Homo sapiens: one gene and its partners. The protein of the gene in region 1 interacts with the protein of each later gene in a pairwise test. Each region holds a gene or a part of one and is shown in the gene's direction. Other genes may lie near its edges.

Evidence for each region.
Region 2: the proteins of KIF3A (region 1) and HUNK interact in a two-hybrid assay, tested with the Homo sapiens proteins (one large-scale study listed by BioGRID and IntAct).
Region 3: the proteins of KIF3A (region 1) and TRIM14 interact in a two-hybrid assay, tested with the Homo sapiens proteins (one large-scale study listed by BioGRID).
Region 4: the proteins of KIF3A (region 1) and PLEKHA5 interact in a two-hybrid assay, tested with the Homo sapiens proteins (one large-scale study listed by BioGRID and IntAct).
Region 5: the proteins of KIF3A (region 1) and DSCAM interact in a two-hybrid assay, tested with the Homo sapiens proteins (one large-scale study listed by BioGRID and IntAct).
Region 6: the proteins of KIF3A (region 1) and MORC3 interact in a two-hybrid assay, tested with the Homo sapiens proteins (one large-scale study listed by BioGRID and IntAct).
Region 7: the proteins of KIF3A (region 1) and TULP3 interact in a two-hybrid assay, tested with the Homo sapiens proteins (one large-scale study listed by BioGRID and IntAct).

What each region holds. Positions count from the first base shown.
Region 1 is NC_000005.10:132,691,560-132,696,046, reverse strand, and holds the end of KIF3A (kinesin-like protein KIF3A), read left to right. Parts: 3' UTR 1-3,416; downstream 3,417-4,487. UniProt on the Homo sapiens protein: Microtubule-based anterograde translocator for membranous organelles. Plus end-directed microtubule sliding activity in vitro. Plays a role in primary cilia formation. Plays a role in centriole cohesion and subdistal appendage organization and function.
Region 2 is NC_000021.9:31,917,722-31,922,208, forward strand, and holds part of HUNK (hormonally up-regulated neu tumor-associated kinase), read left to right. Parts: intron 1-4,487.
Region 3 is NC_000009.12:98,098,393-98,102,879, reverse strand, and holds part of TRIM14 (tripartite motif-containing protein 14), read left to right. Parts: intron 1-2,715; coding exon 2,716-2,949; intron 2,950-4,487.
Region 4 is NC_000012.12:19,135,782-19,140,268, forward strand, and holds part of PLEKHA5 (pleckstrin homology domain-containing family A member 5), read left to right. Parts: intron 1-4,487.
Region 5 is NC_000021.9:40,010,751-40,015,237, reverse strand, and holds the end of DSCAM (cell adhesion molecule DSCAM isoform CHD2-42 precursor), read left to right. Parts: intron 1-1,851; coding exon 1,852-2,204; 3' UTR 2,205-4,239; downstream 4,240-4,487. UniProt on the Homo sapiens protein: Cell adhesion molecule that plays a role in neuronal self-avoidance. Promotes repulsion between specific neuronal processes of either the same cell or the same subtype of cells.
Region 6 is NC_000021.9:36,367,992-36,372,478, forward strand, and holds part of MORC3 (MORC family CW-type zinc finger protein 3), read left to right. Parts: intron 1-996; coding exon 997-1,885; intron 1,886-4,382; coding exon 4,383-4,487.
Region 7 is NC_000012.12:2,938,442-2,942,302, forward strand, and holds the end of TULP3 (tubby-related protein 3), read left to right. Parts: intron 1-869; coding exon 870-1,003; 3' UTR 1,004-2,088; coding exon of another isoform or gene 2,089-2,285; 3' UTR 2,286-2,697; downstream 2,698-3,861. UniProt on the Homo sapiens protein: Negative regulator of the Shh signaling transduction pathway: recruited to primary cilia via association with the IFT complex A (IFT-A) and is required for recruitment of G protein-coupled receptor GPR161 to cilia, a promoter of PKA-dependent basal repression machinery in Shh signaling.

The sequences.
Region 1 (4,487 bases):
TGCGAGTATACATGTTTTTTAACAAGTTGAAAATGTTTCATCTGAACCTTTCCTAACTTTTTTTTGCCAGTTTGAGTTCAAATCAAATACACCTTAAGTTCTGGTTTCATGTTCTCTTGAAACATTGAATTGTACGTAAATATAAAGGATCTACTGTTGCGGAAAATTAAGAAGCTAAATACTGCTCAGTTATCTTTGCCTGCGTGTATATTTTTAAAAATTCACTCTGAAGTGTTATGGATGCTTTTCTTTGAGTTCTAAATTTTGGTGGGAATTACTTTATGTCTCCCAGTTAAGAAGAGTCTCCATTTTCCAGAAAATACAGCTAAGCAAGAAAAATATCTTTTAAATACTTTGCCTTTAAAACACTTTTTTATTTTGTTTTTCTATTTTAAAAATAAAATATTATTTTCTGAATTTCTTCTATTGGGTAATCCAGTTAGACCATATTCCTCTACAAATAAAAACTATGTTGATTTCATAGTAAAGTAAGTTGTAATAGAGATAATTATTTTTTTCTGTTGTTAGCTGCTTATGAAACTTTTATTGTATTTTTTTAAAGTTATGCTACTCCTGGCCGGGCATGGTGGCTCACGCCTGTAATCCCAGCACTTTGGGAGGCCGAGGCACGTGGATCACTTGATGTCAGGAGTTCGAGACCAGCCTGGCTAACATGGTGAAACCCTGTCTCCAGTACAAATACAATAATTAGCTGGGTGTGGTGGCGCACACCTGTAATCCCAGCTACTTGGGAGGCTGAGGCAGGAGAATCACTTGAACCTGGGAGGCGGAGGTTGCAGTGAGCTGAGATGGCATCACTGCACTCCAGCCTGGGTGACAGGGTGACACTCCACCTCAAAAAATAAAAATAAAATAAAAATAAAGTTATGCTACTCCTAAACCACTTAATATATGTTTTGTGGTTTTCAAAATTATGTAATCAGCCCTGAAACACATTGGTTGAAAATATTTTGAGACTTTATAAGTTAGTATTTATTAAATTAATATTATTTTAATAAGTTTTGTTAAATCCTAGTTTAAATGACAAAGCTGTGTATAGAGTAGGGGTGAGTGAAGGTGGAGTACTCTTGAGGTGGCGATAAAAATGTACCCATAAATTTAAAGTCCATTCTGTAATTGGAATACTGAATGTCCTGTGTGTGGTGAACATTTTCTAGGTGATTAGAATTGCATTTCACTGGCTGCATTTGTTTGTGGTATGTAAGATAGCTAGAAATTTATTACTTAACTCTGTGGGGCATTGTTTAGATACTGTGAAGAGTTGAGGTAAATATGTGTCTTGTAAAAGCTTTGTGTGATCAGAATATTTTGGTAATTATAAAATGTTTTTGATGATACACATTTAACTCTGTTAGTAATTACTCTAAAGAAATCTTAATTTTACCAGTTTAAAAAAAACGCTTCTTTTTAAAAGTTCATGTTTCTAACCTTTAACAATTCAGTTAATAGGAAAGGAGTAACTTTTAAATCAAGCTTTAAAACATGGAAATTTAAGCCAGTATGTTAGATATTTTTTCTATCCCACCCTACCATGATAATAAAAATAAATCTATAAAAAGTCAAAATAAAAAGCCGATCTATAAAAAGTCAATTGAGAAGTTCTAAAAGCAGGCTACTATAGCAGGGGTGTTTGTTTTTTGTTTGGAGACGGAGTCTGGCTCTATTACCTAGGCTGGAGTGCAGTGGGACAATCTCGGCTCACTGTAACCTCTGTCTCTTCAGCCTCCTGAGTTGCTGGAACTACAGCTGTATGCCATCATGCTCGGCTAATTTTTGTATTTTTTTGTAGAGATGGGGTTTTGCCATGTTGCCCGGGCCTGTCTTGAACTCCTAGAGCTTAAGTGATCCACCCGCCTCAGGCTCCCGAAGTGCTGGGATTACAGGCATGATTATAGGCCTGAGCCACCACACCCCGCCTACTATAGCAGTTTTTTAAAAAAAGCATTATGTTAAAACTGATTATACCAGATGGACATTAAATATCCATCTCAGAAATACCAAAATTTGATACATAAGCCTGGCCTGAATATCTTTTTTTTTTTTTTGAGACGGAGTCTTACTCTGTCGCCCAGGCTGGAGTGCAGTGGCGCGATCTCGGCTCACTGCAACCTCTGCCTCCTGGGTTCAAGGGATTCTCCTGCCTCAGCCTCTTGAGTAGCTGGGATTACAGGTTTGCGCCACCACACCCAGCTAATTTTTGTATTTTTTTTTTAGTAGAGACCGGGTTTCACCATGTTGGCCAGGCTGGTCTCACCTGACTTTGTGATCCGCCCGCCTCAGCCTCCCAAAGTGCTGGGATTACAGGTGTGAGCCACCACGCCTGGCCTCAAGCCTGGTCTGAATATCTATATGCAAATATGGGACACTGACTTCAGAGCTATTCATTTAGCTCCAGTCATAGCAATTCTGTAGTTTCCTCACATTTACTGTGTCTTTGTCCACAAATGAAATATGTTGTAAGGTCAGTGTTAATTTCGTGAGACGATATAGATGAACACACTTGCTCATTTTTTGAAATAAATATGCAGATTTAAAATGAGTGGCACATATATATAAATAGGTTATTGAATGGGTATTCTCTTTTCCCTTTAATTTAAAAAGTGATATTTATTTATTAAAAGGAGCATTGGTAGAATTATTGGTTTATAGTATCTTCTTTAATAATCCTTACAATTACATATACTAATAGGATGTTAAAATTATCATCGTGTTTCCTATTTGTGTTTAGATTCTTATAAAGCATGAGATGAGTAATCAAGGGAAGGGTCGCATCTCCATGTTTGCCCCATGAATAGAATCCATTTGACAAGCCATTTCATTTCCTTTCTGGAGAAAGGGAGTTGTTTTTTTTTTCTTTTTACAGCAAAAATTTAAGGTTTTATTGGGGGAGGGGGTGGTGCTACTTCCTCTGTAACATGTTTTTAAAACTATGATTATGGTTTTTGGTTGTTTTTTGTTTTGTTTGTTTCCTTTTAGTCTGTTTTTAATATCCTTCCCCTTAACTCTTAAGGAAAGTCTTCTTTCCTACAGGGCTGTGAATTAAGGAATGGGTAGCGTTTACATTTAAGTACACCAATGTCTGCCCAATTTCCTAATGTATACATTTGTTTTATTTTAAATTATTTTTTGTTCTTAAAAATACTAGAAGAAAACATAGATGTTTCTAGTGCCTTTGAACTTATACTGTAGTCTGACTAATTTAATGAATAACTTCAGTAGCATTACTATAATACTGTATGCTGGCCAAAATTACAAATTACAGTTTGTTGCATCAGTTTCAAAAGCCATGCTTTCATTGTATTTTATGTATAAATTGTATTTGTTCAAGTTGTATATATTGGTATTGTATGTATACATGCAGCATGGTTAAATAAGAATAAAAATCTTTTACCTAATGCCTGTAGTAGTGGTCTGCTGCTTTTCTCAACTATCTTTGTGGTTACTTCCACCCTGATATTAATGAGCAGGTTCTTTGTGCTTGGCATCTCAATTTGTGGTTAAGAGAGGCCTGTGTAGTTTCACACCCAGAAACGCTTAATGTTGTGGGTCTTTTAAGCAGAAATCATGAAGCAAATCTGGGAGAGATGTTATTTACATCTTTAAACTTTTAGGTTTGGCGGTACATGTGAAGGTTTGTTACATAGGTAAACACATCTCATGGGGTTTTGTTGTACAGATTATTTCATCACCCAGGTATTAAGCCCAATACCCAATAGTTATCTTTTCTGCTCTTCTCCCTTCTCTCATCCTCTCCCCTCAAGTAGACTCCAGTGTCTGTTGTTTCCTTCTTCGTGTTCATAAGATCTTATCATTTGGCTCCCACTTATAAGTGACAACATGCGGTATTTGGTTTTCTGTTCCTATGTTAGTTTGCTAAGGATAATAGCCTCTAGCTCTATCCATGTTCCCACAAAAGACATGATCTCATTCATTTTTATGGCTGCATAATATTCCATGGTGTATATGTACCACATTTTCTTCATCCAATCTGTCATTGATGGACATTTAGTTTGATTCTTTGGAGAAACTTTTTTTTTAATTAAATTTTATTTTATTTTATTTTAAATTTTATTTTATTTTATTTTATTTTATTTATTATTTTATTTTATTTATCTTATTTTTTGAGACAGAGTTTTGCTCTTGTTGCCCGGGCTGGAGTGCAGTGGCACAGTCTTAGCTCACTGCAACCTCCACCTCCTGGATTCAAGCAATTCTCCTGCCTCAGCCTCCTGAGTAGCTGGGATTACAGGCATGCACCACCATGCCTGGCTAATTTTGTATTTTTAGTAGAGATGGAATTTCACCATGTTGTTCAGGCTGGTCTCGAACTCCTGACCTCAGGTGATCCACCCGCCTCAGCCTCCCAAAGTGCTGGGATTACAGGCCTGAGCTACTGTGCCCAGCTGGAGAAATGTTTTTAAATGTGCTTCTTCTCATTGATAAACTGTATTTTTCACCAAAAATAC
Region 2 (4,487 bases), on another chromosome or scaffold:
ACACACACACACACACACACACACACACACACACACCCCTGGACTGAATTGGGAGTTCCCTGGCGGCATTGGCTGGGGGCCTCATCCTTAAGTGAATCGGGGAACCTGCAGCGTTGGTAAGAGCCATTGATTGGTGTGGTGCTATCACTCCTGTTGCCTGGAACATGCTAAACTTGCTTATTTTACTGCCATTTGATAGCAAAGATTTAATTTCACTCTGTAAAACTCCCCCGACTCAAGTAGTTTATTTTGCAGCTAGAGATCCATTATTGCATTAGGCTTTACCCAGTTAGAGTCAGTGTTAGCTTTGTTTTGCCTGCAAACCTCTGATTACTGTCAAATTGAATTAGATGTCTCCCTTTGCTGATCACTGATTGACTTTTCCTTAATTTCCCATTCATTTTTTTTCCCCATTTCAGTTGTTATAGATGAAGTCGATTAAATGGTTTTGTGTAATCAAGAACGGCATTCCATTTCAGTATTATCAACTTGTAAGTATGGAGCTTGTAAGTCAGGGGGTGGATGAAAACAAGCTGATAATGAGCTGGTATTTGAAAATTGAGAGGGAGCTTAATAGGAAACCTTCTCCAAGGTGAGGTAGCTTAAGGGCTCAGGGTTTTCATGGAGGGAACCTTGATGGCAGAACTTGGGAATCAAGGTGTCAGATGATGGTAGGGCACACACCAGGGGTGTTAGTTTCCTGCAGCTGCTGTAACAAATGACCACAAACTTGGTGGCTTAAAACAACAGAAAGTGATTCCCTCACAGTCTGGAGGCTGGAAGTCCAAAATCAGTCTCATTGGAGATCAAGGTGTCAGTAGGGCCACGCTTCCTCCAGAGACCTAAGGGGAGACTTGGACTTTGCTTCTTCTCCCAGCCCCTGGTGGCTGCCATGGGCATCTCCTGGGCTTGTGGCCATGTTATTCTCTTGTCTCCGTCTTCACTTTGCTTTCTTCTCTGCTTGTCCATCTGATCCCCTCCGTCTTTTAAAGACATTTTTGATGGCATTTAGGACTCACCCAGTTAATCCAGGACAGCCTCCCCATCTGAAGACCATTAACTTCATCATGTCTGCAGAGTCCCATCCCCCTAAAGATGACATTTTCAGGTTCCAGGGATTAGGATGTGGGCCTATCTTTGGGAGGCCATTTTTCGACTTACCACACTGGGCCTGCTTCACGGAAGGCCTTGGTACGACGGCCCAAGGCCTGGGCTGGACTGAGTGGTATGAGGTTGAGGGGCTGGACTGAGCGGTATGAGGAGGAGGGGCTGGACTGAGCGGTATGAGGAGGAGGGGCTGGACTGAGCGGTATGAGGAGGAGGGGCTGGACTGAGCGGTATGAGGATGAGGGGCTGGACTGAGCGGTATGAGGAGGAGGGGCTGGACTGAGCGGTATGAGGATGAGGGGCTGGACTGAGCGGTATGAGGAGGAGGGGCTGGACTGAGCGGTATGAGGTTGAGGGGCTGGACTGAGCGGTATGAGGAGGAGGGGCTGGAATGAGTGGTATGAGGATGAGGGGCTGGATGGGGTTTCCAGGGGGTATTTCCCCAGCACCATAGATCACCTCATTGCCTTGTCCTTTCACCTTCAGGAAAGGGAGGAGGATGGGCTAGAGAAAGAGCAAGAAGTGAGAGAGTGGGGAGAAATGCTTGGAAATACTGCATTTGCACAGAAGTTGGAAGGTACAGGAAGAACTGCCTAAAGAAAAGCCTAGCATGCACCCTTAAGCCTGGCATGTGGGAACCAACACCAATTGTTAGGATGACTGTAATCGTACGGCTGTGATAATGAGGTCTAGATTCATGGAAAGAGCCACCTGGGCTGTCCTTTCTGTTCAGAGTGGTCTGCAGTGTAGACACTTGCTAACCAATTGTGGAGCTTCATAGGGTCCTATTTTGACATAGCTCATGGAGGTGCAAAACCCTGATATGGGCTGGTTCAGCCCTGGGAGTGGAGCCTGAGAGGGAGTTCGTGAAGACTCTGCTCTCCGTGGGTCTCATGGACGTGCGGGAGCAGAGGGGACGGTGGAGTCAATGAGGAATTGTCAGAGGCTCCTGAGACTACGCTGAAGGGCTAGAGTGAGGAGGAGAGAGAGGCTGCCGGTGAAAGGTGGCGTCATTCCCCACTGCCAAGGAGGGTCTCTCCATGCCTGGAAATGCGTCCCAAAGGGCATCAGATAGATTCCTTATATTTTCAGGGAAGCTATTTGTTCCTTGTGGCTGCTATAACAAATTACCACTCTGGTGGCTTAAAGTAACAAATTGATTCTCTCACAGTTCTGGAGGCCAGAAGTCTTAAAAAGTATTGGCAGGGCCACGCTCCCTCCAGAGACTCTAGGGGAGGATCCTTCCCTGCCTCTTCTGGCTTCCAGTGGCAGCCAACATTCCTTGGCTTGTCGCCCCTCACCCCAATGTCTGCCTCCTTCCTCCTGTGGCTGCCCCCTCTGCTTATTTGTGTGAAAACTCCTTCTTTCTCTATTTTATAAGGACACTTATGAGGACATTTAGGGCCTACCCAGGTAATCTAGGCTAATCTCATCTCAGAATTCTTCACTTAATAACTTCTGCAAAGACCCTTTTTCCAAATAAAGTCACATGATCCAGAGATTAGGCCATTATTCAACCTGGTACAGGCAATTGAAGAACTCAATAAGGTATCTTAACTATAATTGTGTACTCTGTTAAAAAGGCAGATTGTATTACTGCTGGGCCTTTAGACTTGTTTGTTTACAGTACTTGTAAGAATTTCATTGCCAGAGGGTGTAATTTTTTAGATACTGCCACACGGAGTGGAGCAAAGACAATGCCTAATTGTACTTTTCAGCATTCTTTTTTCTCCACCTCCCCAAGAGGATGGATATGAAATATGTGTGTGTCTATGTGTTTTTGGAGGGTAACAGTTAACAAAGCTGTTAGTTTAGCATCCCTTGAACTACTTGGGGCCAGACACAGCCAGAGTGTAACTTTACCTCCTGGGGGCTGAGAGCATCAGCCCGAGCTGACTTGAGGTAGTGCAGGCCCCATGCTGTGAGGTGTGGATGGCAGGGGCTCTTCTAGCCTGTCTGGTCCCCTTGGGGGCTGATTGACTCTTTGTTACTCCCATCTTTGGATTAAGGGCCTGAACCTCCCTATTAAAATGAGACTCTGGGCTGGGCACGGTGGCTCATTCCTATAATCCCCGCACTTGGGGAGGCCAAGGTGGGCGGATCACTTGAGGCCAGGAGTTTGAGACTAGCCTGGCCAACATGGCCAAACCCTGTCTCTACTAAAAATACAAAAATTAGCTGGATGTGGTGGCGGGTGCCTGTAATCCCAGCTACTCAGGAGGCTGAGGCAGGAGAATTGCTTGAACCCGGGAGGCAGAGGTTGCAGGGAGCCGCCAAGATTGTGCCACTGCATTCCAGCCTGGGCCACAGAGCGAGATTCCATCTCAAAAAAAAAAAAAAAAAAAAAAAAAAAAGAAGGAGACACTGCTCTATAGAGGAGATAATACATTATGCTGTTTATAGCCATCTTTGCTTTGGTGATTCCATTGGTTAGTCACTATTAGTCACTTGCTGTTTATGAAGCGCTGTGTGTCGTGAAGGGGGAGTGGTCCCTGCATTAAGCCATGACTTACATCTTACTGCAGATGCTGTTGTATAGGGACGTAGGGAAGGAAGGTGCGGGGGAGTCTCTCTGGTAGGGAGGTTAGCCTCTGAAGGACCTGGGGTTGGGGGCTTGAGTGGGGGAAGGGGGTGGCTGGAGTACCTGGAGAGTGATAGAATGCATGTCCCAGGGAGTGACAAGACATGCCAGGAGGGAGAGCTGGGAGGAGTTGGGACCGGGTGGTGGTGGGGCTGATGGAGAAGATGCTTGGGTGCTCCCATAGGCAGCAGTGAGACCTCAAGAGCTTCTGCAAGAAATCAGAGTTCTAGACCCACTGATTTGGAGGCAGAGTGTAGAATGAATTCAAGAGGCCAGGAGGAGCCTCAAGAAGAGGTGACATCCATGCCTTAGTTCACCCTGGGGGTGGCCAGACTTTTATTGATTCGTTCACTATTTTGTTTAATTTAAAGTTTGCCTTTAGTTTGGACTTTTTCCCTTTTTTGTTTTCTTTTTGTTTTTTAAGGTTTTCTTCAGCTTTATTGAGGTTTAACTGACAGATAACCGCGTGTGCTTATAGTATGCAGGTTATGATAAGTGAGCATGTTGTGAAATGGTTACCATGGTCAAGCTCATGGACATGTCCATTACCTGACAGGGTTATCAGTTTTGTGTGTGTCTTGAGAACATTAAAAAATCTCTCAGCAATTTTCTTTCTTTTTTTTTGAGATGGAGTTTTGTTCTTGTTGCCCAGGCTGGAGTGCAATGGCACAATCTCTGCTCACTGCAACCTCTACCTCCCAGGTTCAAGCGATTCTCCTGCCTCAGCCTCCTGAGTAGCTGGGATTCCAGGCGTCCACCACCACACCCAGCTAATTTTTATATTTTTAGTAGAGACAGG
Region 3 (4,487 bases), on another chromosome or scaffold:
TTTCTTCTTCTTTTTTTTTATGGTGATAAAATATACATAACATAAAATTTGCCATTTTAACCATTTTAAAGTATTCAATTCAGTGGTATGAATTATATTCACAATGTTGTATAGCCATCACCTGTGTCTACTTCCAAAACTTTTTCATTATCCCAAACAGAAACTCTGAAACCATCAAGCAATTACTCCCCATTTCCCCTCTCCCAGCCCTTGGTAACGTCGACTCTACTTTCTGTCTCTATAAATTTGCCTGGTCTAGATGTTTCACATAAGCGGAATGATAAATTATTTGTCCTTTTTTGTCTGGCTTAATTCACTGGGGATGATGTCTTCGAGGTTCATCCATGTTTAGCATGCATCAGCACACTGCATTCTTTGTAATCGCTATAAATTATTTCATTGTACGAATGTAGGACAATTTATATAATGAACCGATATACATATCCCATATTGAAAATTGTGCCAAATATGTCATGGTTAACAACTGTCTGAGGCTGGTGCACAGGGGAATAAAATAATTTACCAAAACAGCATTGAGTTTAGAAAGGCAGATTTATTTAGAGAAAAGGGGGAGATACATTGAAAGGGAGCAATGGGTGAGACAGCAGAAAGAAGACTGTCTGCAAAGAGGCAGGAGCTGGAGGTGGAGTTTTCTAAGGTTGTGCTGCTTGAGCTGAATGCTTGCAGACAGGATGCCTGGGTGCAGGTGGACTGTGAGTTGAGTGCTTGTAACAGGATGCTTGAGTGCTAGTGAGCTGTTTGTGGTTGACCCTATTTCTCAGAACGTTCGCTCCCCACTGCTGTTGTTTCTGTTTCTGCTAGTGACGCCCATTTTTCAATGTTTTTTTCTTTTCTTTTTTTTTTTTTTTTTTGAGTCAAAGTCTTGCATTGTCGCCCAGGCTGGGGTGCAGCGGCCTGATCTCAGCTCACTGCAAGCTCCACCTCCCGGGCTCAAGTGATTCTCAAGCCTCAGCCTCCCAAGTAGCTGGGATTACAGACACCTACCACTACACTTGCCCAATTCTATTCTCTATGTGTAGAAGCTATATACTGAGAATCTTGGTACACAAATCTTCATGCACATGTGAAAGCATTTTCTAGGATATAAGTAAAGTAAGAGGAATTGCTGCATGAAAGAATAAATGTATTTAAAACTTTGAGGCCAGGTGCAGTGGCTCATGCCTGTAATCCAGCACTTTGGGGGACCAAGGCAGGCAGATCACCTGAGGTCAGGAGTTCAAGACCCAGCCTGGCCAACAGTGACTCCCTGTCTCTGCTAAAAATACAAAAATTAGCCAGGCATGGTGATGGCCACCTGCAGTCCCAGCTACACGGCTGAGGCAGGAGAATCGCTTGTACCCGGGAAGCGGAGGTTGCAGTGAGCCGAGATCTTGCCATTGCACTCCAGCCTAGGCGACAAGAGCAAAACTTCGTCTGAAAAAAAAAAAAAAATTGATAGCTATTGTCGTATTGTCCTCTAAAAGCGAAGTACCAATAGACCCTACCACCCACAGTTTATATAAATGCCCTACTTCACATACCCTTACAGACTGTATTTCAGTCTCTTAAAAGTCTTCCAATCTAATGATCAAAAACTATTTTCTGGGCTGGGCATGGTGTCTCATGCCTGTAATCTCAGCATTTTGGGAGGCTGAGGCAGGTGGATCACCTGAGGTCAGAAGTTCAAGACCAGCCTGACCAACATGGTGAAACTCCGTCTCTACTAAAAATACAAAATTACCTATGTGTGGTGGTGCGTGCTTGTAATCCCAGCTACTCAGGAGGCTGAGGCAGGAGAATCGCTTGAACCTGGGAGGCAGTGGTTGCTGTGAGCCAAGATCGCACCACTGCACTCAGCCTGGACAAGAGTGAAACTCCTTCTCAAAAAATAAAAATAAATAAATAAATAAATAAAAATTGTTTTGTATTTCATCTAATTGATTTATTCTTTGGGCTTTATGTACAGTGTTTTAGTTTAACTGGACCTTCTCTTTTGTTTGTTTTCCTTAACCTTTCATTGTGGAAAATCTCATATTATTTTAATTATTTTTACTTTTATATTTTTAGTACAAAAAATACAAAAATTTGTTCTAAAATGCCACTGTTACACCACACATACACATACATACATTTCCATATATAATTTGAGTTCTTTTAAAAGCTCTTTATTTTGTACTTTTGACCTCTTATCTATGCTTGAGCCACATGGTTTTAGATCCTGTAGATTTATTGTTTTGTTATCAGATAAGGCAGATAAGGCAGATAACCTCTTATCAGTTTTCTCTTTATTGATTTTTTTAAAGCAATTTTGGCTTTTCTTATGCTTATTCTCTCTCCTAATGATTTAATAATTTTTAATCAGCATGTTAAGATTTTGATTAGAATTTCATCAAATTTATAGACTAATTTAGAGACAAATAGTGACTTTATAGTAATCAACCCTCCCAGTCACGAATATGGTTTTGTATTAGGTATATTTCCACATATTTTGCTATTTTTTCTCCCATTTTCAAAAGGATCTTTATTTCTCCGTGCATTTTACGATCGGTGATGGGCTGGTGCTTAGGAAAGCTTTGGTTTTTATAAGTTGATCTTGTGTCTGACTGGCCACTTTACTGAACTCACATTTCAGACGTTATGATTTTTTTCATGTTGATTATTCTGGATTTCCTGGTTGGCAGACATGTCATCTGCAACTGGTTTTTCTGTTTTTAGGCTAATGCAGAGTCAAGTAAAACCTGGCTGAAGGGGAAATTCACTGAACTCAGATTACTACTTGACGAAGAGGAAGCGCTGGCCAAGAAATTCATTGATAAAAACACGCAGCTTACCCTCCAGGTGTACAGGGAACAAGCTGACTCTTGCAGAGAGCAACTTGACATCATGAATGATCTCTCCAACAGGGTCTGGAGTATCAGCCAGGAGCCCGATCCTGTCCAGAGGCTTCAGGTAATGCTGGGGTCACTGCTCTTACTGCTGCCACCTGCCACCCACACTTCATCTCAAGTATTGTGGCATTGAGCACAGTATTGACACACTAAGCAAGTACATGGACTATTGTCTTGTCACCATGTAGACTGTCTTGCCCCCACACAGGTGGTCAAGAGAATATACATTGTTAGGAAGATAATACACCTCTTGGGCTAATTAAATAATATTAACAGCCACCAATTTCAAAGGCCCCTGTGTCCTGAGCACTGTGTAGTTTAGCACTAATATTCACCAGAACTCTGCAAAGTGGGCTCACCCCATTTTATAAACAAGAAATTGAGGCTCAGTGAAGTGACTCACCTGGTCTCACACAGCAGGTAGGTAGCAGAGCTGGTATCAGGTCTGGCTGTCTGTCTAGGTCTGTCTGACTCTAAACCCACAAGGGACCCTGCCTGGCCCTCTGACTGTACAGTCTTTTTTTTTTTTTTTTTTTTTTGAGATGGAGTTTCTCTCTTGTTGCCCAGGCCGGAGTACAGTGGTGCGATCTCAGCTCACCACAACCTCTGCCTCCTGGGTTCAAGCAGTTCTCCTGGCTCAGCCTCCTGAGTAGCTGGGATTACAGGCATGTGCCACCATGCGTGGCTAATTTTGTATTTTTAGTAGAGACAGGGTTTCTCCACGTTGGTCAGGCTGGTCTTGAACTCCTGACCTCAGGTGATCCGCCCACCTCAGCCTCCCAAAGTGCTGGGATTATAGGTGTGAGCCACCGCAATCAGCCTGCCTTTATAGTCTTAAATTGAGACACCCCACCTGAAAAGGCAGGTGTCCTTGCAGCTACTGAGCACATTTCAAAGGCTGAGTCACAGCTGGCTCAATGGTACTCCTTGGCCACTGGGCTTTGTTGAGGAAGAGTCTAAGAAATAGCCCCTGTGGCAGATCACTTGAGGCCAGAAGTTTGAGACCAGCCTGACCAACATGGCAAAACCACCTCTCTACTAAAAATACAAATATCAGCCAGGCGTGATGGCGTGCACCTGTGAGGCTGAGGTGGGAGAATCACTTGAATCGGGGAGGCAAAGATTGCAGTGAGTAACGAGATCATGCCACTGCACTCCAGGCCGGGTAACAGAGTGAGACTCTGTCTCAAAAAAAAGAAAAGAACTAGCCCCAGGGATAGTCATTGCTACATTTAGAGAAAGCATGTTGTTGAGGATGGTGTTCCTGTCTACTTTTTTCTTTTTTTTTGAGACGGAGTCTTGCTCTGTCGCCCAGGCTGGAGTGCAGTGGTGTGATCTCGGCTTACAGCAAGCTCCACCTCCCACCATTCTCCTGCCTCAGCCTCCCGAGTAGCTGGGACTACAGGCGCCCCCCACCACGCCCAGCTAATTTTTTGTATTTTTTAGTAGAGATGGGGTTTCACCATGTTAGCCAGGATGGTCTCCATCTCCTGACCTCGTGATCCGCCCCCCTCGGCCCCTCAAAGTGCTGGGATTACAGGCGTGAGCCACCGCACCCGGCCGATGGTGTTCCTGTCTTTAGGGAACCGTGGAAGAAAC
Region 4 (4,487 bases), on another chromosome or scaffold:
AAGTTTGCAGCTAGATTAAAAAAATATGTAATATAGAGAATGTATTTTCCTTCACATCCATTTGGCCAAAAAACAGTAAAATATGAAAAATCTTACTTTGTTTTTTTTTTTTTTTTTGAGGGGGGTTTCACTGTGTCACCCAGGCTGGAGTGCAGTGGCTCTATCACAACACACTGCAGCCTTGACCTCCTGGGCTTAAGCGATCCTCCCACCTCAGCCTTACGAGTAGCTGGGACCACAAGTGTGTACCACCATGCCTGGCTAATTTGATTGATTGATTGATTGAGAGAGACAGGGTCTTCCTATGTTGCCCAGCCTGATCTTGAACTCCTAGGCTCACGCAATCCTCCTGCCTTGGTCCCCGAAAATGGGGGATTATAGGCATGAGCCATGGTGCCTGGCCAAAAATCTTTATCTTTAAAGATATTTAATACTTTTTTTCTGAATAATTTTTCTATGTGCCCTAAGCTAGCCAGCCTCTTAATTATGTTACTATGTGTTTGTGTGTGTAAATACATTACACAGAGTTTGAGTTTGATTATTGAATTTTCATATTGTTTTTATAACTTAATTTATGCTGTTATCTTTATGAAGAATGCTGAAAATAAGTGAATTTTATAACTTGTAAAGTGTGGCTTTAAATATTCCGTATTCTTATGAGAACGCAAATAACTTAGCCCATAAAGCACAGAAGAAAATCTTATACGTTTGAGTTATAAAGCTTTCTGCTTGCTCCTTGAAAATATTGCTTAATGATTCTGTAATGACAGGCCATGGTAACTTAAAATGGATGTGTCATTTACTATTCCTTTGTGCTTCAAAGCTTTAAGATGGTTAACTTAGAGTGCCAAGTAAATCTTAAGGCTCTCTGAATAGTGAGAAACTTTATTCTGATTATTTAAAGGTCATTGCAGGACTGGGTATCAAAACAATATTTGCGGGGGTAAAATAGTATGCAAATTTTTTAAGGTTATGTTTTCATACTGCTTTTTTTAACTTAAAATTCTAAGTTCTGAAAATTGAACTTTTTCTTACATAGGCAAATAGAGTATGAGGTTTTGTTTCAATATCTGCAATAGCTGGATCTAATGTATGCTAATTCCAAACTTACCAAAACTAGCGTTGCAAGTAAGGAGAAAAATCTGTTTCTTCAGATTTTCACAATTCAAAATATGAATGAAGATGGGGAATCTAACAAGTGCCATAAAAAACATTAGAATATATTAACTATGTATTTGATATTTAAAGTTGTTTTATACTTTACTTTTTTTTTTTCTTTGAGACGGAGTTTCACTCTTGTTGCCCAGGCTGGCATGATCTCAGCTCACGCAACGTCCACCTCCCGGGTTCAAGCAGTTCTCCTGCCTCAGTCTCCCAAGTAGTTGAGATTACAGGTGCCCACCACCACCACGCCTGGCTAATTTTTTGTATTTTTAGTAGAGAAGGGGTTTCGCCACGTTGGCCAGGCTGGTCTCAAACTCCTGACCTCAGGTGATCCGCCCACCTCGGCGTCCCAAAGTGCTGGGATTACCACCACCCCTGGCCAAAAACTGTTTTATACTTTCTATAATAATATAACCAAATTTTGATTACTAGAGCTATATAATTCTTTAGAACACTTTGTGGGCATTATATTTCTTTTCCATATTTATAACAAGAGTTTTGGACTGTTAATATGTGATTCCTTACATTGATAAAGCACTTTATGCTAATTCATTAGTTACAAAACAACTACGAACTATGATCTCAGCTTTCAAGGAGTTTGTAGTGTAGAGATAAATATGCAGTATATTAAAACAGGGAGATGGTTTGGGGAACATAGACTTATTTAGTGCTAGGCACTTCAGCATAGCATTAAACTCCTATAATCCTCACAATAGCCTTTTTGTTGTTGTTGTCTCTTTCGTTTTCAAGTTGGTGTGCCAGGACTACCAGCCTCAGTAGACTTTGTTGTGGAATTCTTTTATTTTTAGCCCCAGGACCACTGCTTAGGGCCAGGTTTGCTCAATATCCTCCTTGTATTTCCTGTGATGCCCAGCATCTAGTCAGCCTCTAAAGAAGTGGTATCTGTGATGATGATGATGCTGGCTCCTAGTTATTTAAGGAGTTAATCAAGATGGGGAAAGAATAGTCCCCACAACTCAAGTGGTTGCATTTTAAGAACACTTTCTGGATTTGTCAAGGGACTTTTTCTTCCCTAATCTGGATAGACCCCTTCGTTTCTTCTTATTCTCAAAGCTGGCCTATATTTAGGAAGGGGGAGGAAGTGGTCAATACAAAAACACAAAAAGTATTGGAAGAGTTGAAGAGTCGATGACCTGGAGACAGGGCCTTACATAGGACCTGTCTGTCCTATACAGGATGGAATTTCTTTGAATTTGTTAGCAGATGCTCTTTTCTTGTGACTGTTTCATTTTTTTAAATAACAGATAAATATAAGATGAAATTAAGGGTGAAAAGTTATGTGTATATGTGTATGTGTAAGTTAGAGTTAATGGTGTAAAAAAATGGCACGGCATGGTGGCTCATGCCTGTAATCCTAGCACCTTGGGAGGCTGAGGCAGGCGGATCACTTGAAGTCAGGAGTTTGAGACCAACCTGGCTAACATGGTAAAACCCTGTCTCTACTAAAAATACAAAAATTAGCCGGGTGTGGTGGCGGGCTCCTGTAGTCCCAGCTACTCGGGAGGCTGAGGCAGGAGAATCGCTTGAACCCAGGAGGGAGAGGTTGCAGTGGGCCGAGATCACGCCACTGCACTCCAGCCTGGGTGACAGAGTAAGACTCTGTCTCAAAAAAAAAAAAAAAAGAAGATGCTAGTTTGAGTCATAAGAATTCAGAGGAGGAAGAGGCAGCCTAGGCTGGGCTGCCCTGGAACGACTTGAAGAGGTGGGAGTTGAGCTAGGCCTGAGGGTATAGATGGGATTCACTTTCAGATGAGTTGATAAGACTGGGAGGATACATTCATGGGGCTGGGAACACGTATAATATGTGAATATGTGTGATGAGTAATACTAACTAGGCTTGTTAGTGATGGTTCTGTAGAAAATGCTAGGATGATGGGAGGTGAGTCTAGGAATGCTGTTTGGAACCATACTGTGTCCGGTCTTTGAATGTCAGGCTGAGGTTTTTATTTTCCGGGCAAGCCTTTGCAGATGTTTTTTAGTATAGCGTTAATTATGCAACATGAAGGTTTTAGGGAGATTTCAATACAGGCAGCATGGATTGGACAGGAGCAAAGTGGGAATCAAGGAGACCATTTCTGAGTCTGTTGCCATAATTGGGTAGTTACTTGAACTAAGTTTGTGGCAGCGGGAATGGAAAGGAAAGGCCATTGATCAAAGATGTTAAAGACGAGCTGACAGGCCTTAGGAGTCTTGCTGAGCAAGGAGGTTGACAGAAAAAAAGAGGTCAAAAGCTCCTCAAAGCCTTTGTGTCTGAGTGTCTACAAGAATGATGATGAGACCCTTGACCGGAATAAAGGAGTAGGTGTGGGAGGGGGAGCCCCAGGTGGACATATTAATGGTGGTTTGGTTTTTGAGCTGCTTGAGAGGACATAGCATTTCAGGTGGCTAAAATCCGACTTTCACAAAGGACTCCTGACATTATCTTTTTACTCCCCTCAAAAAGCAAACACAACCCACTCCCCTATCCTATCTCAGCTACCTAAATGACTATCTAGCTATTTATAGATTCAGGCTGGGAATTTCATATTCATCCATCTAATTATTCATTCAACAAATGCTTATTGAATATTTACTGTGTGCCAAGTGCTTTAAGCTTTATGAATGAAACAGACATGGACACTACTCTTAAGAACTTTATAGTTGAATTAGTGGGGGAGCCAGTAATAAAATAATCATGCAAATATGTAAGATAGACTGTGATAAATGCTATGAAGAATATCTAATGTTTTGACTACGTATATTGAAAGGCCTTAGCCCGTTGTGGGGGTTGCTGGGAGAGGCATTTCTCACAGTTAAGCTCCAAACCCCTGCAGAGTGGATCAGAATAGAGCAGTGTAAAGTCACTGGAAAGATGAAGAATAAATAGCCTCCTGGTCTTGAGATTGGACCACAACCTGAGTGAAAGCATTGCTATATATAAAGAAAGACTTGGGGGATGGGGTTGGTATGGTATGGCAATTTATGAAAAGGAGAAAGCTGCTGCAGAAGCTGCTCTTTATCATCCAATAGATAACAATGTTTAGCCAACTGATTTTAATGATTATCTCAGTCCCAGTGGCAAGGTCTTCCAATTAGTCACTCACTCATGTGTTCTTCCAATTCTCTTGAATACATTTTGAACTCATAGTTGTGTGCCTTAGTGATTAGTGTACATCAGTAAATGAAATAAACCAAAAAATTCTGCCCGTCTGGGGAGTGGGATGATGGGGGAGAGAATGTCAAAGTAAACAATAAATAAGTACATTTTATAGTATGTTAGACTACACATAAATCCTCTAAGCAAAAAGTCTACTTTTTAAGTC
Region 5 (4,487 bases), on another chromosome or scaffold:
GTGGCCTTCAGAATTCCAGATGGACACTCGTGTGGAAATGCCTAGCAAAGCACCTAAAATTCACATCTAGGGCTCAGGAGAAAGAGCAAAATGGAAAAGATAGATGGGAATGTTATTTATAAAGCAATGAGGAAAGCAGCCAAGCCTTCCGAGAGAGGCCTGAGAGCAGGCCACTGAACACTCCGTATTTAGAGGAAAGACAGAGAAAAGGATCCAGTCAAGGAAAGTGAGAAAGGGTGGCCAGAAATGTAGGCAGAGATCTGGAAGACCACAGTGCCCTGGCAGCTGAAAGGGCCAACAACAAAAATATCAACGGCATCAAATGCTATAGTAATGCAGGTAGGAAGAGGACGAAGAGGAAACCAGAGAATTTGGCAATGAGAGGTCAGGGTGACCTTTCAGTAGCTGATGGTGAAAGAAGCTGTGTCAGTTCAGGTTTTTGAGAAGCGCCTAGCAAGACAGATTAGACACACAAGGAATTTATTGGGGAAATTCTTGTGAAGAAGGAAGCAAAAGGAAGCAGGAGGTGGCAAGGAGAGTCTGGAGACCATAACAGAGGTCCGACACCTGTGAGAGGAGAAGGCGAAGGAGGGATTGGTTGGAGGCACGTCAGGCTGCGGTGCACTTCTGAGAAGGCTGCAGTGAGGCTGATGGGGTATCCCTGAGCAAAGGATGCCTGTTAGGGAGATCCTGCATCGGGCGGGGACGGCCATGAGAAAAGCCCTGTCACGCTTGTCATTGGCTTGCAGCATCCCAGAGAACACATGCCTCCCTTCCTGCAGCAGATGCTCTTGGTTTTTTTGTTTTGGTTTGGGTTTTTTGTTTGTTTTGTTTTGTTTTGTTTTGTTTTGTTTGAGTCTTGCTCTGTCACCCAGGCTGGAGTGCAGTGGCATAATCTCAGCTCACTGCAACCTCCTCCTCCCGGGTTCAAGCGATTCTCCTGCCTCAGTGTCCCCAGTACTGGGACTACAGGCGCCCACCATCATGCTTGGCTAGTTTTTGTATTTTTAGTAGAGAGGGGGTTTTGCCATGTTGGCCTGGCTGGTCTTGAACTCCTGACCTCAGGTGATCCTTCCGCCTCGGCCTCCCGAAGTTCTAGGATTACAGGCATGAGGCACACCGTGCCCAGCCAGCAGATGCTCTTGAAGGAGACCTGAGGTTATGTTTGCGTGGCACCACAGAAGCCAGAGTGACCATAAGCAGGAAGTAGAAACACTAGAATTCTGGTCTAAGCTGCTGTCATCTCTATACACAGCATGGCTGAAACAGAAGAGCCACGCAGAAGTTAGCAGGTAGGCAGGGCCTGGTAAGAAGGCCATAAGCTGTGGCGCTTTCACCCAAAGCCATCATGAAGACCCATAACTAAGTGGCTGGCCAAGGTCACAAGGTTTCATAGAATTGCCAGGACGAGAGCCAGCTGTCCATCTTCGCTTGGCGTCCCTGGCTCTCTCCTCAAACCCTGTGCTCTCCCTGTACTTCCAATCACATGCGGGGTTTGGTCTATCACCGTTCGTACCCAGTGGACACTGATGCCTTTGATGTATGTTTTTCTTTCAACGATGGTGTGTTGAAGGATTCTGTTACCTCCATTCCTCCATTTCTGTACAAGTAAGTTAATACAAGTAAGTAAGTACTGTAGGAAAATGAGCTCCTCCCGCGCCCAGGGAGGAGGTAGGAGGACGATTCCACCTGTCTTTGTGGTGAGCGCTGAAGGAGGATCTTGAGAAAGGCACCTGTGTGCAGCGGCATTCTCATCTCTAAAGCCCGCATGGCTTCCCGTGTGCACACAGGACATTCTGCCCATGTTTACCAAATGAAGACACCAACTAACTACCCTGTCTTTCCTTCTAGGTGACCTCATACATTTGCCTCCATACCTTAGAATGGACTTTTTGTTAAACCGAGGTGGTCCAGGCACCAGCAGGGACCTGAGCTTAGGACAAGCATGCTTGGAACCTCAGAAAAGCCGGACCCTGAAGCGCCCCACGGTCCTGGAGCCCATCCCGATGGAAGCCGCCTCCTCCGCCTCCTCCACGAGAGAAGGACAGTCGTGGCAGCCGGGGGCCGTGGCCACATTACCTCAGCGGGAGGGAGCAGAGCTGGGACAGGCAGCTAAAATGAGCAGCTCCCAAGAATCACTGCTCGACTCCCGGGGCCATTTGAAAGGAAACAATCCTTACGCAAAATCTTACACCCTGGTATAACAGACAGCATGACTGGACAGCGGTTGTAAATACAATTCAAACAATTCAATCAAAGCTACCTTTTTTTTACGGAATTCCAATATTTATAATTAAAGAAAATTGCCAAAATATATTAAAAAAAAAAAAGAGAAAATACTGAAACCACAGACAGTGCAAAGACTCTCCTGCTTTTTTTCTGTCTGAGTGTGAGCTCCATCCGCCTGGGCATCTGATTTTTTGGGAAAGAAGTCCAGTTTTATGATCTTCACAGGCTATTGCATTTTTACTGATTTTCTACAAAAGTGCATGGGGGGGATTAATTAAACCTTCTGACTGGAAGTTCTATCACACAAGAGGCAAGAAAGAAAACAGGGTGGGTGGGAAATCAGCCTATTTGTGAATTTAAAAGGAACACCGATTTGCGGGCAGGGGAAAACTTCAGTCACGTTTGCACACCTTTCTTTCCCATTAGAAACCGGGTTCTCAATTTGGTCTTCTTTTGTTGTTAATTAGGATGAGTGCCGTCAGTGAAGGGGTGGGGGGAATCAATTTGGTTTTCTCTCTTGTTTCTTTTTTAATTTAATGAGACACTCTTTGCATTTTGTCTAAGCGAAATAAAAAAGAAAAGGTTGTCTGCCTTTATTTCCATGTCTGCTTCTCTCGTCTTCTGCCAGTGGCCTGGTCCTCCTTCCCATTGACACTTCTGTTTGGAAACACCAGGCCTGAACCCAGAGCCCAATTCAATAAACCAGAGTCGATACTAACACCCTGAACTCCTCAGGAATCTCCAGGAAGCACAAAGAAGGTGCAGCTCCTGCTCTCAAGCTGGAGAGGACAAAATGCAGGCTGGTCTCCACCGCAACCAGAGGCCAGCCCAAGTATTCGAAGCCCGTCGCAAAGCTCTGCCCCTTGCCTGCCCATGGCCAGAGTTCAACTGACTGTGGCCTATGGGCCAAATCCAGCCTCCTGCTGTTTTTTAAATAAAGTTTTATTGAAACAAGGCCACATGCACTATTTGCTATTGTCTATGGCTGCTTTCATGGCACAATGGTAGAGCTGAATAGTTGCAGCAGAGATGGTATAGCCCATGAAGCCTAAAATATTTATTACCTGGCCCATTACAGGAAACATTTGCCAGACCCGTGCTCTGGAGTCTGAAATGTAGCCCCAGCTTGCGTGACAAGGGGCAAGATCGTGCATCTTACCCTCCATGACTTTTCCTATCTCCACTATGCCTGGTATGCAAATTTGTGATAGACCATCTTAATAAACATTGCCTGAATCCTCTGTAACCAGAGGAAAGTGATGTTCCTCTAAAATCTAAGTTTTTACTTTCCTTTCCCTCACTTTATCTCCCATGTGGCTCATCCTAAGAGAGAATTTACTCATAAATAGTCGGAACTGCATTCTTTATCCCACAACCCTCACAGGGTTTGCTTTATGAAAGAGGATGTAATCCTCCCCTGGCTGCAACACTCCATTCCAGGCTCACTTCCATAAAATGGAAAGATAAACAGGTCTTTGTGTCAGAGATTTGGCATTAACCAGAAAACATGATCAAATATCCACAGCTGCTCAGTCTCCCAGGCTGAAGATTCTCTACAGGCTTCCATTAAGGCCACCAACATAGACTGGTGCCAGTTATTACCATCTTGGGAACATATTCAGAAATGTCTTTCCTTCCCTCCCTCCCTCCTTCTTTCCCATCCTTTCTTCCTTCTATTTATTTTCCAGGCAGGCCCATTTGTCTGCTTAGATTCAGTGACACAGAATGGGTCCAGGACCATGTCAAGACCACCTGCTGATGCTAGTGTTAGATGACTCCAGGAATGTGAGGTGTGCATCCATGGTTTCAGAATGTAATCCGTGTTGACGTGTACTGTTTGCATACTCTCAGACTGTTTTTTTTTTATGCAAAAGAAATGTTACTTTCTGGGGGAAAAAATTAAAAGTCTATCTTTCATCAACCTAAAACTTCTATATCCCCCAAACATAGAAGTTTACCTTTTTAACATTTTTCTCTCAACCTGTACAAAAATAAAAAAATTCTACATTATGTCTGCCTCTAGAATGGATTGCTTTCAAGACTCCTGCCTTAAAAATACTCATTAAAATCAGTTTAACACACAAACAATTGTCTCAAAAGATCACCTCCTTCCAGTTCAGATAGGGGTCTATTATTGCTGTCTTCAAGGGGCTGCAGATTAAAGGGTAGTGTATACTAAAACGACTGTTATTGACAGTAATAATAATTAATCTTCCTCTAGACCTCTACCTGTCTGATTTGTTTTGTGGAAGTCACCG
Region 6 (4,487 bases), on another chromosome or scaffold:
CTGTTGCAGGCTGTGCTCGCCCAATATGAGACAGTCCAAAAAAGAGGAAAATCCTTCCTGAGATCTAGGAGGTCTAACACAAGGCCCAAATAGCAAACCAGTACAAATATTCCTCCAAGTGTGGAAAAAGGCAATCAAATGGTGATAAATAAATGTGAACTATGCACATATTAACATGAATGAACAGGGAATGATGCAAATGAAGAAATTGGGGCAATTTTAATTCAGATAAAATTATTTCATATGAAAGGATAAATACTGGTTTGCTTTATGGCTTATCTTTGATCACTGATTACTGATAAAAATTATTATGGGCAAATGAAAATGGTGGTGCCATTCCCTGAGCTGAAGAATACAAAGAAGGGGCCGGGGTGGGTAGCATTCTGTTCTGGAAATGTGTACATTGAAATGCCTGGAGGTGATCAAATGCAGAGATGTTTGGCAGTAAATAGATCTGGTACTTCAAAGAGATCTCAATAGTCCATCGTCTTCATCTGTAAAAAGAGAAAATAATCTCTACTTCATTAAATCAGTGATTGGTACTATACAATGCGTCACTTTAAAAAATGAGCCTGGGTATTTCTTAGTATTGCAAAACTTATAGCTGGGCACAGTGGCTCATGTGTCTAATCCCAGCACTTTGGGAGGCTGTGGCAGGCAGATTGCTTGAGCTCAAGGAGTTTGAGACCAGCCTGGGCAACATGGGGAAACCCCATCTGTACTAAAAATATAAAAATTAGCTGGACGTGGTGGCGGGTGCCTGTAATCCCAGCTCCTCAGGAGGCTGAGGCAGGAGAATCACTTGAACCTGGGAGGCAGAGGTTGCAGTGAGCCAAGACTGTGCCATTGCACTCTAGCCTGGGCGACAGAGTGACACTCCATCTCAAAAAACAAAAAAACTGTTACAATACTGCATTTGTTAGAATGATTACTTCAAGGTCATCTATTTTGTCCATATTTTATAATCTTATGTTTTATGTATAAAATTTTTTTCAGCTTGAAACGGAGACTTTCTACTCGTTCCTCAATTTTGAATGCAAAGAATCGGAGATTGAGTAGTCAGTTTGAAAATTCAGTTTATAAAGGTGATGATGATGATGAAGATGTCATCATCTTAGAAGAAAACAGTACCCCCAAACCTGCAGTAGATCATGATATTGACATGAAATCAGAACAGAGTCACGTTGAGCAAGGTGGTGTTCAGGTTGAGTTTGTGGGTGACAGTGAACCTTGTGGCCAGACTGGTTCAACAAGCACCTCATCATCCCGATGCGACCAGGGAAATACTGCAGCTACCCAGACTGAAGTACCAAGTTTAGTTGTTAAAAAAGAAGAAACTGTTGAAGACGAGATAGACGTAAGAAATGATGCAGTGATTCTGCCCTCCTGTGTAGAAGCTGAAGCAAAGATACATGAAACCCAGGAAACCACCGATAAATCTGCAGATGATGCAGGCTGCCAATTACAAGAACTGAGAAACCAGCTACTCCTTGTCACTGAGGAAAAAGAGAATTATAAAAGACAGTGTCATATGTTTACTGATCAAATCAAAGTGTTACAACAGAGGATACTAGAAATGAATGACAAGTATGTTAAGAAAGAAACTTGCCATCAGTCCACTGAAACCGATGCTGTATTTTTACTTGAAAGTATTAATGGCAAATCTGAAAGTCCAGACCATATGGTATCTCAGTATCAGCAAGCTTTGGAAGAAATAGAAAGGCTGAAAAAACAATGTAGTGCTTTGCAACATGTAAAGGCTGAATGCAGCCAGTGTTCCAATAATGAGAGTAAAAGTGAAATGGATGAGATGGCTGTGCAGCTTGACGATGTGTTTAGACAACTGGACAAATGCAGTATTGAGAGGGACCAGTATAAAAGTGAGGTGAGTTATATCATCCAACATGTAGTCATGGAGTCCAGGGCCATTTAAACCTTAAGAAGCTGCCAGTTGGCTGGGCGCGGTGGCTCATACCTGTAATCCCACCACTTGGGGAGGCCAAGGCGGGTGGGTCAGTCACTTGAGGTCAAGGAGTTCGAGACCAGCCTGGACAAAATGGTGAAACCCCGTTTCTACTAAAAATACAAAAATTAGCCTAGCGTGGTGGTGGGAGGCTGAGGCAGGAGAATCACTTGAACCCAGGAGGCGGAGGCTGCCGTGAGCCAAGATTGCACCACCACATTCCAGCCTGGGCAACAGAGCGAGACTCTGTCTCAAAAAAAAGCTGCCAATTGCTTGATTGGAATGCTTTCACTTAAAAATAATTCTGTTCTTATTGAGTGTCTGTTATTCTACTGGTTCTCAACTGAGGAGAGGGCCTCCTGGAGGCATATGGAATTGTGTAGGGGCATTTTTGGTTCTTCCAATGTCTTGAGATGTGCATTCCTGAAAAATATTAGGGGTAGCCAGGTATGGTAAATGTCCTGTTCAGAATACCAATATTAACTTAATACCTCATTAATACAGTTAATTATGTTCTTTTTTGGGCATCAATTCTGCTTTTAAGTATAGTTAATCCTTTAGTTATGGAGTCATTCATTTTTCTAGATTATGTCTTTCAAGATTCCTGAGAGAAACTGACTTATCCCTTTTAAAATCTTTGATTAATATACATACATACATATATATATATATATATATATATATATTTTTTTTTTTTTTTTTTTTTTTTTTTTTTTTCTTCTTCTTCTTGAGACAGAATTTCGCTCTGTTGCCCAGGCTGGAGTGAGTGCAGTGGCCCAATCTCGGCTCACTGCAACCTCCACCTCCCGAGTTCAAGCGATTCTCCTGCCTCAGCGTCCCGAGTAGCTGAGATTACAGCACATGCCACCATGCCCGGCTAATTTTTGTCTTTTTATTAGAGACAGGGTTTCACCACATTGGCCAGGCTGATCTCAAACTCCTGACATCAAGTGATCCACCCATCTTGGCCTCCCAAAGTGTTGGAATTACAGGCGTGAGCCCCCATGCCTGGCCTGAGTTGCTTGTGTTCTGACTATCAGAACTGAGTCATCTGGCTAAAGGGTGCCTGGGAAATGCAGTCTTTATGCATGGGTTCTTCTACTGAGAAAGAAGGAGAAAAACGATAAATACCAAGAGACAAATGATAAATATCAGTAGCTTCTTCATATGCCCCTACTTCAAATTCAGGTAGCTCCTTTTAATCTATTTTATACATTTTTGTGTGTGAGGCCTTTGAAAGGATTTTCCTGCTAAAAAGAGTTTGGGAACCATGGTGTGGTGCTGTGCTGTCTCTTCCTTGGGAATATTTGCTACTCATGCAAACACTAATCTTGATGTCTTGGCTCAGGAGTTGAATGACAAAATACAGATGCTCCTCAACTTATGATGGTGTCAGTCCTGAAAAACCCATCATAGGTTGGAAACAGCATTAACTCCAACATTCATTTAATTACAGCCAACCTCCCAAAATCTTAGCCTAGCCTAACCTGCCTTAAAGTGCTCAGAACACTTGTGTTAGCCTACATTTGGGCAAAATCATCTAACACAAAGTCTGGTTTATTACAACATACTGAGTATTTCATGTAATGTATTGAATCTGTGCTGAAAATGAAAAACAGAATGATTGTATTGGTATGCAAAGTGTGGTTTCTATAGAATGCATATAACTTTCACACCATCATAAAGCTGGAAAATCATAAAGTCAAACCGTTGTAAGTCAGGGACCATCTGTTTATAAAAAGCATAAACTCATTATTGTAACTTAATTATAAGCTGATGAGTATGCAAGAAATAAAAACCACTGTGACATTAACATAATTTAGGCATTAGTATCTTGGTTTTTCTGTTTTGTTTTGTTTTGTTTTTTTTTTTTTTTGAGATGGAACTTCGCTCTTGTTGCCCAGGCTGGAGTGCAATGGCGTGATCTCAGCTCACCGCAACCTCCACCTCCTGGGTTCAAGCAGTTCTCCTGCCTCAGCCTCCCGAGTAGCTGAGATTACAGGCGGCTGCCATCACACCCAGCTAATTTTGTATTTTTTGTAGAGATGGGGTTTCTCCATTTTGGTCAGGCTGGTCTTAAACTCCTGATCTCAGGTGATCTGCCCACCTCAGCCTCCCAAAGTGCTGGGATTATAGGCGTGAGCCACCATGCCCGGCTGGTTTTTCATTTTCTAGGTACCACTTTTTTTTTTAAATCAAGTGGTAATATGTTGTATTCTCTCAGTGTAAAAAGATGTAGAAGTGAAGCTGTAAACGAATGAAGCCTTGTTTATAGAAAACTACTGGTTTTTCTTTGTGTATTTGTTTTTTGATAGTTGATAATGTTATCAAGCAGGTTCTCTATATTAGCTTGAAATTTCACTTTGCCATTAGTATTTTTAAGTTTTACAGTTATAAAGCTCATTTATATTTTTGTTAGGTTGAATTGCTGGAAATGGAAAAGTCACAAATCCGTTCACAGTGTGAAGAACTCAAAACTGAAGTAGAACAGTTAAAATCTACAAATCAACAGACGGCAACAGAT
Region 7 (3,861 bases), on another chromosome or scaffold:
AAAACTTGTAAATCACTGTGTTGAGGAGGGGAGAGGAGTGTGAGAGAGATGCTATAGCAAATCAGAGAAGTTGGCTGGGCACCATGGCTCACGTCTGTAATCCCAGCACTTTGGGAGGCCGAGGTGGGCAGATCGCTTGAGACCAGCCTGGGCAACATGGTGTGAAACCCCATCTCTACAAAAAATAGAAAAATTAGCTGGGCGTGGTGGCAGGCACTTGTAGTCCCAGCTACCCGGGAGGCTGAGGTGGGAGCATCACTTGAGCCAGGAGGTCGAGGCTGCAGTGAGCTGAGATTGCATCACTGCTCTCCAGCCTGGGTGACAGCAAGAACCTGTCTCAGAAAAAAATAAAAAATCAGAGAAGTCATAGAGTAGGTTGTTTGGGAAACAAAGGCAAATGACCCCAATAAAGGTTCCTGGCAGCTCTAGCCTGCGGAGTTTATGACATTCCCAGCAAGCTGCTCTCTATTCTACAGAAACCTGGTGATTAACTGGCCTATTTGGAGGATTCTTTCTGTATCATAAATAGGATCCCAGCACTTTGGGAGGCCGAGGCAGGAGAATCACTTGAGCCTAGGTGTTTGAGACCAGCTTGAGCAACATAGTGAGACCCTATCTTCACAAAAAGTAAAATATTAGCCAGGCGTGGTGGCGCTTGCCTGTAGTCCCAGCTACTCAGGAGGCTGAGGTGGGAGGATCACTTGAGCCTGGGACGGGAGGTCAAGGCTGCAGTGAGCTGTGGTCATTCCACTAGGCTCCAGCCAGGGCGACAGAGCAAAACCCCATCTAAGAAAAGGAAGAAAAAGAAAAAGATTTCCCTGAGTGCAACCACATTATATTCTAACATGTTGATTTCTTTCTGTTTCTAGCTGATTATATAGTCATGCAGTTTGGACGTGTGGCAGATGACGTGTTCACACTGGATTACAACTACCCACTTTGTGCAGTACAGGCCTTTGGCATCGGTCTTTCTAGCTTTGACAGTAAGCTGGCGTGTGAATGAGAGAACAGTCAGGCAGGGAGCCCTTCTCCCCACAGAGCTTTCAGGAGCAGACAGTGGCCTCCCCTTCCCCTCCCTGCCCCAGGACTTAAAGAGCAATAGTTTGCCCCTTTTGGAATGATCTCTGAATATATAAAACACACACACAAAGAGCAATAGTTTGCCCCTTTTGGAACGACCCCTGAATATATAAAACACACACACGAAGAGCAATAGTTTGCCCCTTTTGGAACGACCCCTGAATATATAAAACACACACGAAGAGCAATAGTTTGCCCCTTTTGGAACGACCCCTGAATATATAAAACACACACACGAAGAGCAATAGTTTGCCCCTTTTGGAACGACCCCTGAATATATAAAACACACACACACCCCGCGCACTCTCACTCCTTTTCCAGGTTTCATAGACTTGGTGAGGGATCACAGCTTAGCATGGGTGAGAGATGATTTAAAGCACAGGGAGATTCTTGTCACATTGGGGTCTCCAAAGCTAGAATGGGATTTCATGTGCTTGGAAACTTGCAGTAGAATCAGGGACTGACATCGCAGTTCCTCTCCTCTCTTCATTCCCTCACAGCAGATTGGCCGGCACCAATCTTAGTCAAGAGTGGCTGTGATCACATTTGTGATCAATTATGTGAGAATTTTATATAATTGTCTTCATTTCAATTAAGGCTGAAAGCATAAACTCTAGAGGTGACTCAGTCAGGACTGACAGTAATGTGATAATTGCCTTCATTTTCAACCCAGGAGTGCCTCTCACAGCTATATGACTACGGATCCATTAGTGAGGAGCGACACACACACCTGTAGGCATCCTGTGCAAACACTTTGTCATTATCAAGAGAGATGGCAGTATTGACCATTTAGTTTAGTTAAAAAAAAAAAAAAAAAGGTGGCAGGAGAGGCTTTGGGGAGGATCAGCCAGCAGACATGAGCACTGCTGGCCCGTGTGGCAGAGCTGTGGACTTTCTTCTCGGCTCCCTCAACCCTGGCTCAGGCACAGAAGGTGTTTTGCTACGTTTTTTTGATTATTACACCCCTCCACGTATTATGTGACTCTTACACCAGTTCACCCTTCCCAGAATGTATCCAAACCTTGAGAATGCAGGAGCTCTGTGAGCTCCACCGTCAGCACCATTCAGCTGCATCCCTTGTGCACAGAACTGTTTGCCAGCGTTGGGTGGGACACCCGTGGCGGCTGCTCCCTCAGACCTCCCTTCTGTGGACTGACCTCTCACCTCCGCCTGTTGTTCCTGCACCACATCAGATAAGCATGTGAAGGAGGGCCAACTGGCAGCTGCGGGACCCTTGGCTTGTCCCCCACCGACAAGTCCCACCTGCTGGGTGAGGACGAGACTGTTTCCATCTCAGGCATGTATCCCACCAAGTGCCTCCCTCACAGCCATGCCCAGAAGCCTCACACCTCGTCACCACCACCACCCCCCACCCCATCCTGAGGCACTGCCTGGCAGATAACCCTGGTTGGCCACAGAAGCTATTAATACACGACAGCATGTGGGGAAGGACTTATGGTGGGCCAGGTGGACCTCATCCTGCTTCTTCCTCCCTCTGGTTTAAAGAGATATATAAACTAATTTCACATAATTTGTGTGTGCAGGTGATTGGTTTTTACATAAGTCCTATTTATACCTTTTATATGTTACAGAAATAAAAGTTAATTTATATAAAAATGTGTCACTGCCTTTGCAAGTCCTATGCCTCAGGAAGTTCCTACTGTCATGTTATATAATCATAATTGTCATCTTGGGCCACGTGCAGTGGCTCACGCCTATAATCCCAGCACTTTGGGAGGTTGTGGCAGGCGGATCACCTGAGGCCAGGAGTTGGAGACCAGCCTGGCCAACACGGCAAAACCCTATCTCTACTAAAAATACCAAAATTAGCTAGGTGTGGTGGTGCATGTCTGTAATCCCAGCTACTCAGGAGGCTGAGGCATGAGAATCACTTGAACCTGGGAGGCTGAGGTTGCAGTGAGCAGAGATCACACCATTGCACGCCACCCTGGGCCACAGAGTGAGACCCTCGCCTCAAAAAAAGAAAAAAAAATGTTTTGGTAACACATCAGTTCTGTAAAACCAGGTGATTACTAACAAACTTCTCATCCTGATGTAGAGCAGGAATCTGCAGACTAAGAAGGCTGTGTTCCGGAGGCTACCTAGACACACTATACACATGATAGCCAGGGGCATCTGGACAGAGGACGGGACCGAGAGCTGAGCTTAGCAAGGCCACAGAGGGTAGAGTGTACATTCTTTGCATGCCTGCCCAGGTCCGCTTCCCAGGTTTGTTCTTGTTGGCATTGTTTACTGGTTCAGCAGCAACACAAATGAACTATCTCATAGACCCCATCGCTTGCCTCTGAATGTTAACGTTTTGTTTGTTTTTTGAGACGAAGTCTTGCTTTATCACCCAGGCTGGAGTGCAGTGGGCATGACCTCGGCTCACTGCAACCTCTGCCTCCCAGGTTTCAGCAATTCTCCTGCCTCAGCCTCCTGAGAAGCTGGGACTACAGGCGTGCGCTACTACACCCAGCTAATTTTTGTATTTTAAGTGGAGAAGAGGTTTCACCATGTTGGCCACGCTGGTCTCGCCTTGGCCTCCAAAAGTGCCAGGATTACAGGCATGAGCCACTGCACCCGGCCTTTTTTTTTTTTTTTTTTTTTTTTTTTTGAGACGGAGTCTGGCTCTGTTGCCAGGCTGGAGTGGAGTGGGGTGATATTGGCTTACTGCAACCTCTGCCTCCTGGGTTCAAGCAACTCTCCTGCCTCAGCCTCCCGAGTAGGTGGGACTACAGGCGTAAGCCACTGCGCTCGGCACCCCCCCCTCCTTTTTTT